Linked DNA regions of Homo sapiens. The protein of the gene in region 2 interacts with the protein of the main gene of each other region in a pairwise test. Each region holds a gene or a part of one and is shown on either strand. Other genes may lie near its edges.

Evidence for each region. Proteins that work in one complex are often made in the same cells at the same time.
Region 1: the proteins of NBPF19 (region 2) and CHRD interact in a two-hybrid assay, tested with the Homo sapiens proteins (one large-scale study listed by BioGRID).

What each region holds. Positions count from the first base shown.
Region 1 is NC_000003.12:184,386,554-184,391,033, reverse strand, and holds the end of CHRD (chordin isoform 1 precursor), read right to left. Parts: coding exon 4,279-4,480; intron 4,190-4,278; coding exon 4,096-4,189; intron 3,984-4,095; coding exon 3,927-3,983; intron 3,661-3,926; coding exon 3,557-3,660; intron 3,104-3,556; coding exon 3,001-3,103; intron 2,448-3,000; coding exon 2,293-2,447; intron 2,142-2,292; coding exon 2,039-2,141; intron 1,668-2,038; coding exon 1,612-1,667; 3' UTR 1,205-1,611; downstream 1-1,204. UniProt on the Homo sapiens protein: Dorsalizing factor. Key developmental protein that dorsalizes early vertebrate embryonic tissues by binding to ventralizing TGF-beta family bone morphogenetic proteins (BMPs) and sequestering them in latent complexes.
Region 2 is NC_000001.11:149,477,103-149,482,564, reverse strand, and holds part of NBPF19 (NBPF family member NBPF19), read right to left. Parts: intron 4,621-5,462; coding exon 4,518-4,620; intron 3,686-4,517; coding exon 3,471-3,685; intron 2,424-3,470; coding exon 2,351-2,423; intron 1,887-2,350; coding exon 1,681-1,886; intron 391-1,680; coding exon 339-390; intron 1-338.

The DNA.
Region 1 (4,480 bases), on a different chromosome or scaffold from region 2:
CAAATCCCACCTCGGGGAGAGTGCCTTTTGCAGCGAATACGTGCCAGGCCCTGAGCTTGTGTAATGCACGTGTTCTGATTGAATCCTGTGAGGGGGATATCATGTGTTTTATAAAAGGGAAATGGGGGTTTGTGAAAGTTAAATAACTCAGCTAGTTAACAGCAGAACTGGAACTCGATGCTTCAATGGGCTAAGACAATAACTTCTTAACCACATACAGCATGCCTAACACTCCATAAGCAAGCTATGATTTCCCTTTCCCCTGCCCTACCAGATCATAAAATCCCAGATTCATTTGACTCCACATTGTTTATATGAAAGATGGATCTGCAGCTACATACATTTGTTAGATTTCTGTTCTGATACCCTCATTTCCTAGAGCTTGTCAAAATGCCTGGGTCTTGATGGTAGGAATGAGGGAGGGGAGAGAGAAGAGGGTAACAGGGCAGGAGGGTCTTGTCTTATTCTCTACATGATTTGGTCTCAAGGTAAGCACAGCCAAAAGCTGGATCAGAGCTGATTCCAATCCACTCTGACCCCAGTTTGCCCCAGAACTGGTCCAGAACACGAGTTTCCAGGAAAAAAACAGAAAAGTGTTTGCCTCACTTTAGACAAAGAAGGTAGAGGCTGGGCTGGGTGTGGTGGCTCATGCCTGTAATCCCAACACTTTGGAAGGCCAAGGCAGGAGGATCACTTGAGGCCAGGAGTTCAAGACCAGCCTGGGCAACATAGCAAGACCCCATTGCTGTGAACGAAGGAGAAGGGAAGGGAAGGGAGAGGGAAGGGAGAGTGAAGGGAAGGGGAGGGGAGGGGAGGGGAGGGGAGGGGAGGGGAGGGGAGGGAAAGAAAGGGAAGGGAAGGGAAGGAGGGAGAGAGGGGCTGGTGACACCTTTGATTCTCTCTCTGGAGCAACTTCAAACATGAAGTCAGCAAACAGGCCAGCGATGTGGGAAACTAAACTTGAGTCAAAATCCTGCTTCTACTTCCCTAAATTCTTGAGTCTCTAGACCATCTCAAGAACCATCCCCAGCCCCTCTGCGGAACCCAGGCATGCCAGCCAACTGCCACGCTATCCTCTGCCTCTCCAGGTCTCTTTCAGCTCCCCAAGTGTCAGAGCTCCTCTCTCTCACCTCCTACTCTCTGCCCCTTCTCCACCAGGCCCCACTCAGGTTCCTGGCCACAAAGAGCCAACCTCATGCCCAAAGACTGAAAAAGAAATGTTTTAATAAATACAAAACTCTCCAATAATGACTCTGCTCAGCTCAGGGGCAGCAGGAGTGGAGTGTCGGGGGCCCTTGGTGCTGAGTGAAGATAAATTAAAAATCCCAACAAGCCAGTGACATTATGTACAGGAGGAAAGGGGTGGGGCTTCCAGGACAGAGGCCGAGGGTGGCAGGGCAGGACTTGGAGTGGCTGTGACCTCGGTCTGGCCCAGCTGCCTCTCCCCCTTGTGGAGCTGTGGTTCCCAGAGGTAGTGGGGGTGGGAGTAGAGGCAGGACAGAGGAGCAAAGGCACTGGGCTTCCCACAGGAGAATGCAAGAAGGTCCTCGATGCCACCCCTTCCCCAGCTCAGGCCCCATCCTCTTGGTCACTTGGCCCTCTGGCTGCTCCCTAAGAGCCTTCGGCTTCTTTCTCCAGCTCTGGATCAGTTCTGGTCTCTGGGGCTGCTGGAGACAGAAGGGAGGGAATGTTGGAGGAGGGGAGAGGGAGTGGAGAGGCACAGAGAGGCATAGAGGGCAGGGCAAAGCATCCCTGCCTTGGTCCCAGAAAGGCCAGTATTTTCTAAACAGGTCAGTGCACACAGCTGGGTGACCTTCATCTCGTTGCTTAATTTCTCTGAGCTTCAGAAATCTCATTTGTAAAGAAAAGGTCATAAATAACAATTCCACCAGGTTGCTGTGAGGGTGGATTGGAATGGCACTTGTGAGGCAGGCTGCACTGTTCCTGCACACAGTGAGTGCTCCCTTCCCTGATCAGGAGTCCCACAGGCAGGTGAGCCCTCCACTCACAGCTGCTGACCCTGGACTCCCTCACTTACGCCGCCGGTGGGCCGTGCAGCGGGAACAGCATCGACTCTCCTTCCCCGAGCCACAGGACAGTGGCAGTGAACAGTCATCCCGCTCACAGTGAGGCACCCCTGCCTGGTACAAGACAGAGCAGACACTGAGTGTCCCCCAGAGGCACTGGGACACAGTGACCTTCAGCTTCTTCAGGGACCTCCCTGGGAAGGTCTCCCTACTCCAGACCAGGCTCCCAGTACCCACCTCACACAAGCCTCTGCTCCCCACTTACCCCACATCTGCAGGTGATACAGCTCATCTCTCCAAAAGGGGGCACTGAGGGGTGCCAGCTCTGACTCTCTGGGAACCACTGCCCAGCAAAACGGCAGCCCCGGGGCCCATCAGCCTGCATGGGGTCCCCCAGCTGGGGGTGGGCCCCCGACCCCACTGTTGAGAGGGAAAGAGAAAGGATCAGCCCAGGAGGACCAACAAGGTTTTATGAGTATTCTCTTTGAATACCCAGCACGTTGCAGTTTCTGGCACTTAGTAGGTGATAAATTTGGATGGGTGGGTGGGCAGATGAATGGATGGATGAAGGGACGGATGGATGGATGGATGGATGGATGGATGGATGGATGGATGGATGCATCAATGGGTGGATGGGTGGATGGATGGAGGGATGGATGGATGCATGGATGGATGCATCAATGGGTGGATGGTTGTATGGGTGGATAGATAGATGAATGGACGGATGGATGGATGGATGGATGGATGGATGGATGGATGGATGGATGGACGGATGGATGGAGCAGGAACCAGAACCCATCATACCCCACTAGTATATCACATTCTTTCCACTGCATTTAGAGTCCTGGCTCCAGGCTAGGCACAGAGCAGTGCTCAGTATAATGCTCAATTAACTGAGCACCCTTCCCCTCACCCAGGACAAAGCCTGCCTCAACCCAAAGGTGAGGCCTCAGTGCTCAGCCACCTCTCTCACCTGGACACTGTTTGCAGCAGTCGGTGGGGTTGACACGCACAGGCTGGGCACAGGCCAGCCGGGGACACTGCACCTTCTCACAGTGCACCTCTCCAGTGCCCCCCTGTAGGGATCCATTGAGCAAGGAGTGTCAGGCAGGGGGCACATAAGCCTCCTGCCCACTCCCTCTCCTATTCCACACCTCAAATGCAGTCTCTCTGTGGCCTTTTACTCAGAGGCCCGGACTGGCTTTATAGACCTAAACTCAGCTCCTCATCAGAACCCTGCAAGGTAGGTGCCATCATATCTGCTTACAGGAGAGGAAAGTGAGGCTCAGGGACAGAAGGTGCCTAGGGTCACTGGCACTAGTTAGCTGGCAGAGCCAGAATCCACACCCAGGTCAGCCCTGTTCATTTTCCCACAGGAAGCCGACTCTCAGAGCGCAAGGGCCTTTTCTCATATCGTTTTGATTCTTGAGCCCTCCTCACCAAGGACGGGCCTTCCTCACCTGGCAGCCCCTCCCCATCTCTGCAGACCCCGCTGGGTTATGGCACCAGAGAAGATTGGGTGGCCATACCTTGCAGGTGCAGACAGCACACTTAATTAAGCCAAAGGGGGGCACAACGGGGTGCCACCGCGTACCCGCTGCCCGCCAGCTCCGGTCACCATCAAAATAGCAGCCTGGTGGGGAACAGGGCCCAGCAGCCATTAGTATGAGCTCATCAGCTGGGCCCACAACCAAGGCTTGAGCCTCAGGCCACCCCCACACGAGCCTAAGCCAAGGGCCCACCTGGGGGCCAGTAACACTAATGAGTCCTGTCAGGCATCACTTGGAATCTGTGCCCCTCAGGCCACCCCCTATATACTCTCCCCTTCTTGTCCCCCTCCTGGTTCAACCTAATGGCTCCTCTGGGGCCTCCCACCCTGCACGCACCCTTCCAGCTCACCCTCTCCTGGGTCCCGGCTCCTTGGCAGCCCTGGCAAGTCTCTGACATCTTGTTTCTCTGTGGAGCCAAAGAAATGGTGAAAGCAGAGAGTGACCACCCTCATTCCCTCCCCAAAGGACCTGTCCGCACTGGGCCAACTCCTCCCTCCACTCCCCTGCGGGGAACTCACCAGGGCAAACAGGGCAGCACTGGTCGGGAGCCTGCACCGGGTGTGGGCAGCTGGGCGGTGGGCACACCACCGGGTCACAGATCACCGTTCGTCTCTGCAGAGAGGAGCAGAGGCATTGACGGGAGTGTCCAGGCCCCTTGCTCCAGATCCCAGGACCCAGTGTGCCCTTCCAGGACCTCCTACCTGGCAGGTGCAGAGTGAGCAGAGCGGGTCGTAGTTGGGCGCCCAGCGAGCCCCGTGGGGGCGCTGCTGCCCCTCGAAGAAGCATGTGTTGGGGTCTCGGGGCCGCCCAGGACCACCAGGTTTGGCGGGCGCTAGGGCCGGGAGACCAGGCACCACAGGCGGCGCAGCAGAGGCTGTATCCGGAGCCCCCAGCGCCCGCACC
Region 2 (5,462 bases):
AGAAGTAACTAAGATCAGAGCAGAACTCAAGGAGATAGAGACACAAAAAACCCTTCAAAAAATCAATGAATCCAGGGCTGGTTTTTTGAAAAGATCAACAAGAAAACCCTGTTTGGCTAGTTCACCTGGCTCATCTGATGGCAAGTTCCTATCTTGAGAGGACTATGAAATTAAAACCAATACAAGTGCCACAAATAACATACAACATTGTAAATCAGCACAATTTGTAGCTGGGTGAATGGAAGAAATAGTTCTATTCATCACTTCCTCATTTTCCCTAAATCTACAATCTCCAGATGTCACTACTGAATTAACAGCCAACAATTCCACAACATTACCTGGGAGACACTGGCCCTTTTTCTTCCTCTTCCTCATCATCACTTTCATTTTCTGTAAATAAATTCAGAGAAGCAGGTCACATTAAGCAATTCATACTTCACATATGAACAAATCACTGTCCAGTCATAGCACAAGGACATAACTATTCTCAGTGCAAGAATAAGGATTCTGACAGGAATATTCTAGGGTGTCCTAGATTAACTTTGGTGAGAATTAGATGACCCTGCTTTCCAGACCCACAGGCCAAAATCTCCCTCTACGTGTAGACCATAATGCCATATTCCCTGCCTGAGTCAAAGTTAAACAAAATTTTTTCCCCAAAAAAATCTCCAAAAATTGGTCAAACAATTTTCTAAGAGTGTTGCTGCGATACGGACTTATATCACCAGGTAACATGGACATTAAATGTTTAGAGGCATCTATACATGAAACACGACTGATAGATAAATTTTAACAACTCTTGCTTTAAAAAGAATCTGTGATTTGGGAGGCCAAGACAGGTGAATCATTTGAGGTCATGAGTTCAGGACTACCCTGGCCAATATGGGGAAACCCTGTCTCTACTAAAAATACAAAAATTAGCCAGATGTGATGTTGTGCACCTGTGGTCCCAGCAACTCAGGAGGCTGAGGCAGGAGAATCACTTGAATCTGGGAGGCAGAGGTTGCACCAAGCCAAGATGGTGCCACTGCACTCCAGCCTGGGTGACAGAGCAAGACTCCATTGCAAAAAAAAAAAAAAAAAAAAAAAAATCCACGATGCTACAAAGAAACATTGGATCAGCCATTGCATTGACAGGGTGGAGAACCAGGGTCCAGCCTTGCTTTATGGAAATATATCAGCAAAGTAAAGAAGAAAAGTTTCCGTCCTGATTTCAGGGTGACTGTGCAGCTAAGCAAGCTGACTTAAAGGAGATCCAGATGAAAGCTGAGAGCAGTGAAGCCTGGGGAACAATATTTCCAAATACAAAGGCAAGGCTGCCAGCTTCCTTAAACAGGCATAGAAACTCCATGGACATTGTTCAGGGACAGATGACTTAATCACAGATGACAAGAGATACTGAATCGAAGATAGGAGGCCTGACAGATACTGCCTGTGCACCTCCTGCACTCAGGTGACTATGAGATTGTCACACTTGCCTGGGGTTGAGTAACTTGATACTGGGGACTGGCAGACAAAGTCATGACATTAGCTGAGAAGGACAAAAAAACTCCCTGATATCTGTTTAGAAACCCATCACAGTTTTTTATTCAAATGAATTTGTGTTTATAGAGCCTGTCTTCAGAGTTTATCTTTCTCAGCCTAGAGAGAGGTATGAGACACAAGGAAAACAGAGGCTACCTGGAATAATGTGTACAGCATCCTCCCATTCAACATGAGAGGATGAGCCAATGAGAGTTGAGTCGACTTTGTCTTCCTCAAATGTGATTTTGGTTTTCCTATGTGGCTGGTTGGAGTCATAAGGGCCATGGCTATTTGAATAAGTGATGGCACATTCCTCCAGTGAGTCCTCAGGGACTTCCTTTTCTTCAGCCTTCTGCATCTCCCTGATGAGCCAGGTGGGACAGAGATGACAGAAGATTAAACACAGAGGGATTGGACCCCAGGGAGTCCTAGCTGGTTTTGACAGGCGGCATTAAGAGAGTGGTCCCAGAAAGCAAAATGGAGGTTCCCATTAAGAGGGAACATGCAATCCTGTTCTCTCTGCAACAGAGCATGGCTGCCATGGGAACCAGAGAGGAAGAGAGCAGCTGCTGTTCATTGCACTGGACAGATAGGAGCTGAGGAGGATGAAGACTCAGCTATCCCTGTAAGGTGCAGACATGACACTCAGCACACATAGAGAAACATGACAGCTACCGCACCCTGTGTCTAAGCTGGATTATATTTCACATACTGTGGCCAAGCGAATGCGGGTTTTTGGCCCATCATAGATGCCAGAGAGGGTGTGCCTCCTAGATATTCCTCATATGTTACCATCCATTAATTGTTCCTGAGTATTCAGTGTTACCTGGGGGCAGACGATTTCTGCACTTTCTCAGCCACCTCAACTTGAACATCTTCATCGTCATCGTTGTCATTTTCTGTAAATACAGAAGTGTTCGTTCAGATATTTCCCACTTCACAGTCTGCAAGCACAGTCAGCCCAATGTGCAACAGAGACATGAACATCTAGGCATGGGTCACCGTTCAACTGAAAACTCTCATGTTTTATCTTTAACAGAATGCCCTGCCATGGTTTCCTGATCCATCAGGCAATGCATTTCTGATCTGGAGGGCCACCATCAAGATGTGGCCAAATATTGAAAAGACCTTTTGCTTCCCATATCACTGGAGGCTTGTGCAGCCTCTCTCTGGACGTTGGCAGCTGTCTCCCCCATCCTGCCAGATCTGATTCCCAGGCACAGGCTTGGTGTCCTGTCACGGTTTGCATTTCAAACCTCATTCTTTCTCTTAGGAGAGGACAAACTTGTCCCACAGTCCTCTATGCGTCATGAGACTGCACAGGCCCTCCATGTGGCTTCTGCTGTGTTATTCAGGGACATTCTATCCATGGGGAGTGCTCCAGTCTGAAGCACTTCCTACCACCAAATGCCCCCACATCAAGTGCCTTCTCCAACACCACATGGAGAGGGGCTTCATCTCATTTTGAAAAGCATTCGTAAGTGTTCCCATATTTGGATGCTTCAGACCCTTGCAAGAGACAATTTGTCTGCCTTTGCAGATGGAGAGAGAGAAACTCTGAAAAGATAAATCACTCACTGACACTTACTAAGAACACTGCCAAAAATACAGCCTGGGAACCTTCATTCTTAGCCCAGAGCTCTTTTCACTCCAACAAGCGCCCTTCCATCACAGCCTCCTTCCTGTCCTTTAAAACTAGATAGATGCTGCCTCTTGCTCCAAAGACCACCTTCCATCAAGGAAGGAGGGACACTTGCAATACTGTGACCTCCAAACCCATGGGTTTCCCATCTCTGTTCTTACCCAGGAAGTCCTGATCATGTCATGGCCACATAGGTGTAGTAGAAAAAAACCCCACTGATATAACTGTCATTGTGAAAGTATGGAGGTCTGGAGCCTCTCATAAGCCTGGGGTTTTGGGTCATCAGGGCCTATGGCCACCTTACCTGGGCTGAGCTTTTGGACAAGGTGCTGTGCCAGTCTACACCCCTCAGCCAGCTGTTCTTGGAGGTCCTGCCCCTGGGACTTGTCCGGCTCATCCGGAGTGAGGAGGGCCTGGAGATGCTCATTCAATGAGCGGGAGGCATCTCTCCCTTCCCGTAACTTCTCCCTTAACTGGGTCAGCTCTCGTTCCTGAGAGTGAAACAGGACTTTATATTGCCTAAGGTGAGACGGTAGAGAAAATTTAAGAGTAGAAAGGGTTGAGTGATCCGTTCAAATATTGCAACAGAGACTTCTGAGACAATGTCCTCAAGGAGACCTCCAAGCAGAAGGTCAGCACATGTTGAAAGGAATGACTGTGGCCAAGAGGAAGAATAGAAAATGGTCTACAGGCTTTCCCTCTATCAGAGAGGGCTCCTGCAAGATCCTCGATGATGTTCCATTCATCTTTCTCTTCTGTAAACAAAAGTAGGTGTCTTCCTAATTCCGTTTCAAAAAGACATCCTTTCAGTTCCTCACTCTGGCCATGGACATTTCCATGTGAAAATACACATAGTGCATCTTGCGGCCACTAAATACAAAGCCATGTACAGAAATGAGGCCAGGTGCAGATGGGGCGAATTGAAAAGATGAAAGAAGAAAAGAAGGACAGGGTCAAGAAGGCAACATTGATTGAGTGAAAGAATGAGAAGACGCAGTCAGTCAGGAGGTGATTCTCACTAAGGGTAAGTGGGGTGGTGATAGCACACCATTTTGATTATACTGAATGCTGCTGGGTGGTTCCCACTCCTTTGGTGAATTTTGTGTTATGTAAATTTCACCTCAACAATTACTTGTTTGAAAAAGAGAAAACAAGGCTCTAAGAAACAACTGCAACACAGAACTTATTATTATCCTTGTTCACTGATAAATATTTGTGTGTCATGAGCCTGTCATGGCAATTTCTGCCCTTCCCCTGGCCCAGCTTCGTTCTTATTTCTCCCCGCCGAGCTGCTGTACTTCAGAGATCTACACACCTACCCGCCTGCCCTCCCCCCACGGGGTCCCCTCACCTGAGCTCCTCAGCTTGCTTCAGCTGCTCTGCAAGCTTCTCCTCCTTGAACTGTCGCTCATTCCTCAGCATAAATTTTATGAGGTCTTTACACTCTTCATACTCTGAGAAAAGACAGACACGCCTGCCTCAGTGGAAGGCTGGACATGCTGCTGTGGTCACTGCCTACAGGGCAGGAGCCAGGTCCATCCCAAGGACAAAACTCTCCCCAGTACCAGGGTCTAGACAGGGATTTCCACATCTTTATTCTTCAGTCTCCTGACTTTCTGGCATCTGATCCTCCAAAATTTAAAGACGAAGAAAGAGAAACTCAAGGGCGCATCAAGGAAGTTGACAAGATGATTCAACCACAACGAAGTGGAGTCAGAACTCACAGCCCCTGAGGTCTGACTCTGAATGCGGGGCCACTTTCCCAAGTCTTGCAGCCTCTCCTCTAAAACACTGCACTGGGGCATGAAGTAGTGATTTCTTGTACAGTCGGGAAGGCCCCTAGGACTATGGGACTGATGGTTTCCCTTTTACTGGGTATTTCAAGGACAAATATGTCAAGGACTTTAAAAATATTTCATTTTTAAATCAATATTCAGATATGGTTTTAAGAATCATATCTGAAGCATAAAGTGTGAGATATAAGACAATAAGGCCATGAAGGAAATATGCCCAAATACTTTATTAGTATGAGAGGCAGCATTAAGATTTAGATTAGTTGTGTTAATTTAGAAACAGCATTAGTTTGTGTTAATTTAGAAACATCAGAATGAAGAACTAATAGATAGTGTTTCCACTGTGCCAATTAATGTTCAAGGAGATTGACAGGAAATACCTCATGTAATTCATTGCAGCAATTTACAGAGGTAGGTATTATTGTAGTACCCTCTGAACAGATGAGGAAACTGAGGGACAGACAAGACAAGCAACTTGGATGGAGCCCAGGAGACAGGCTGAG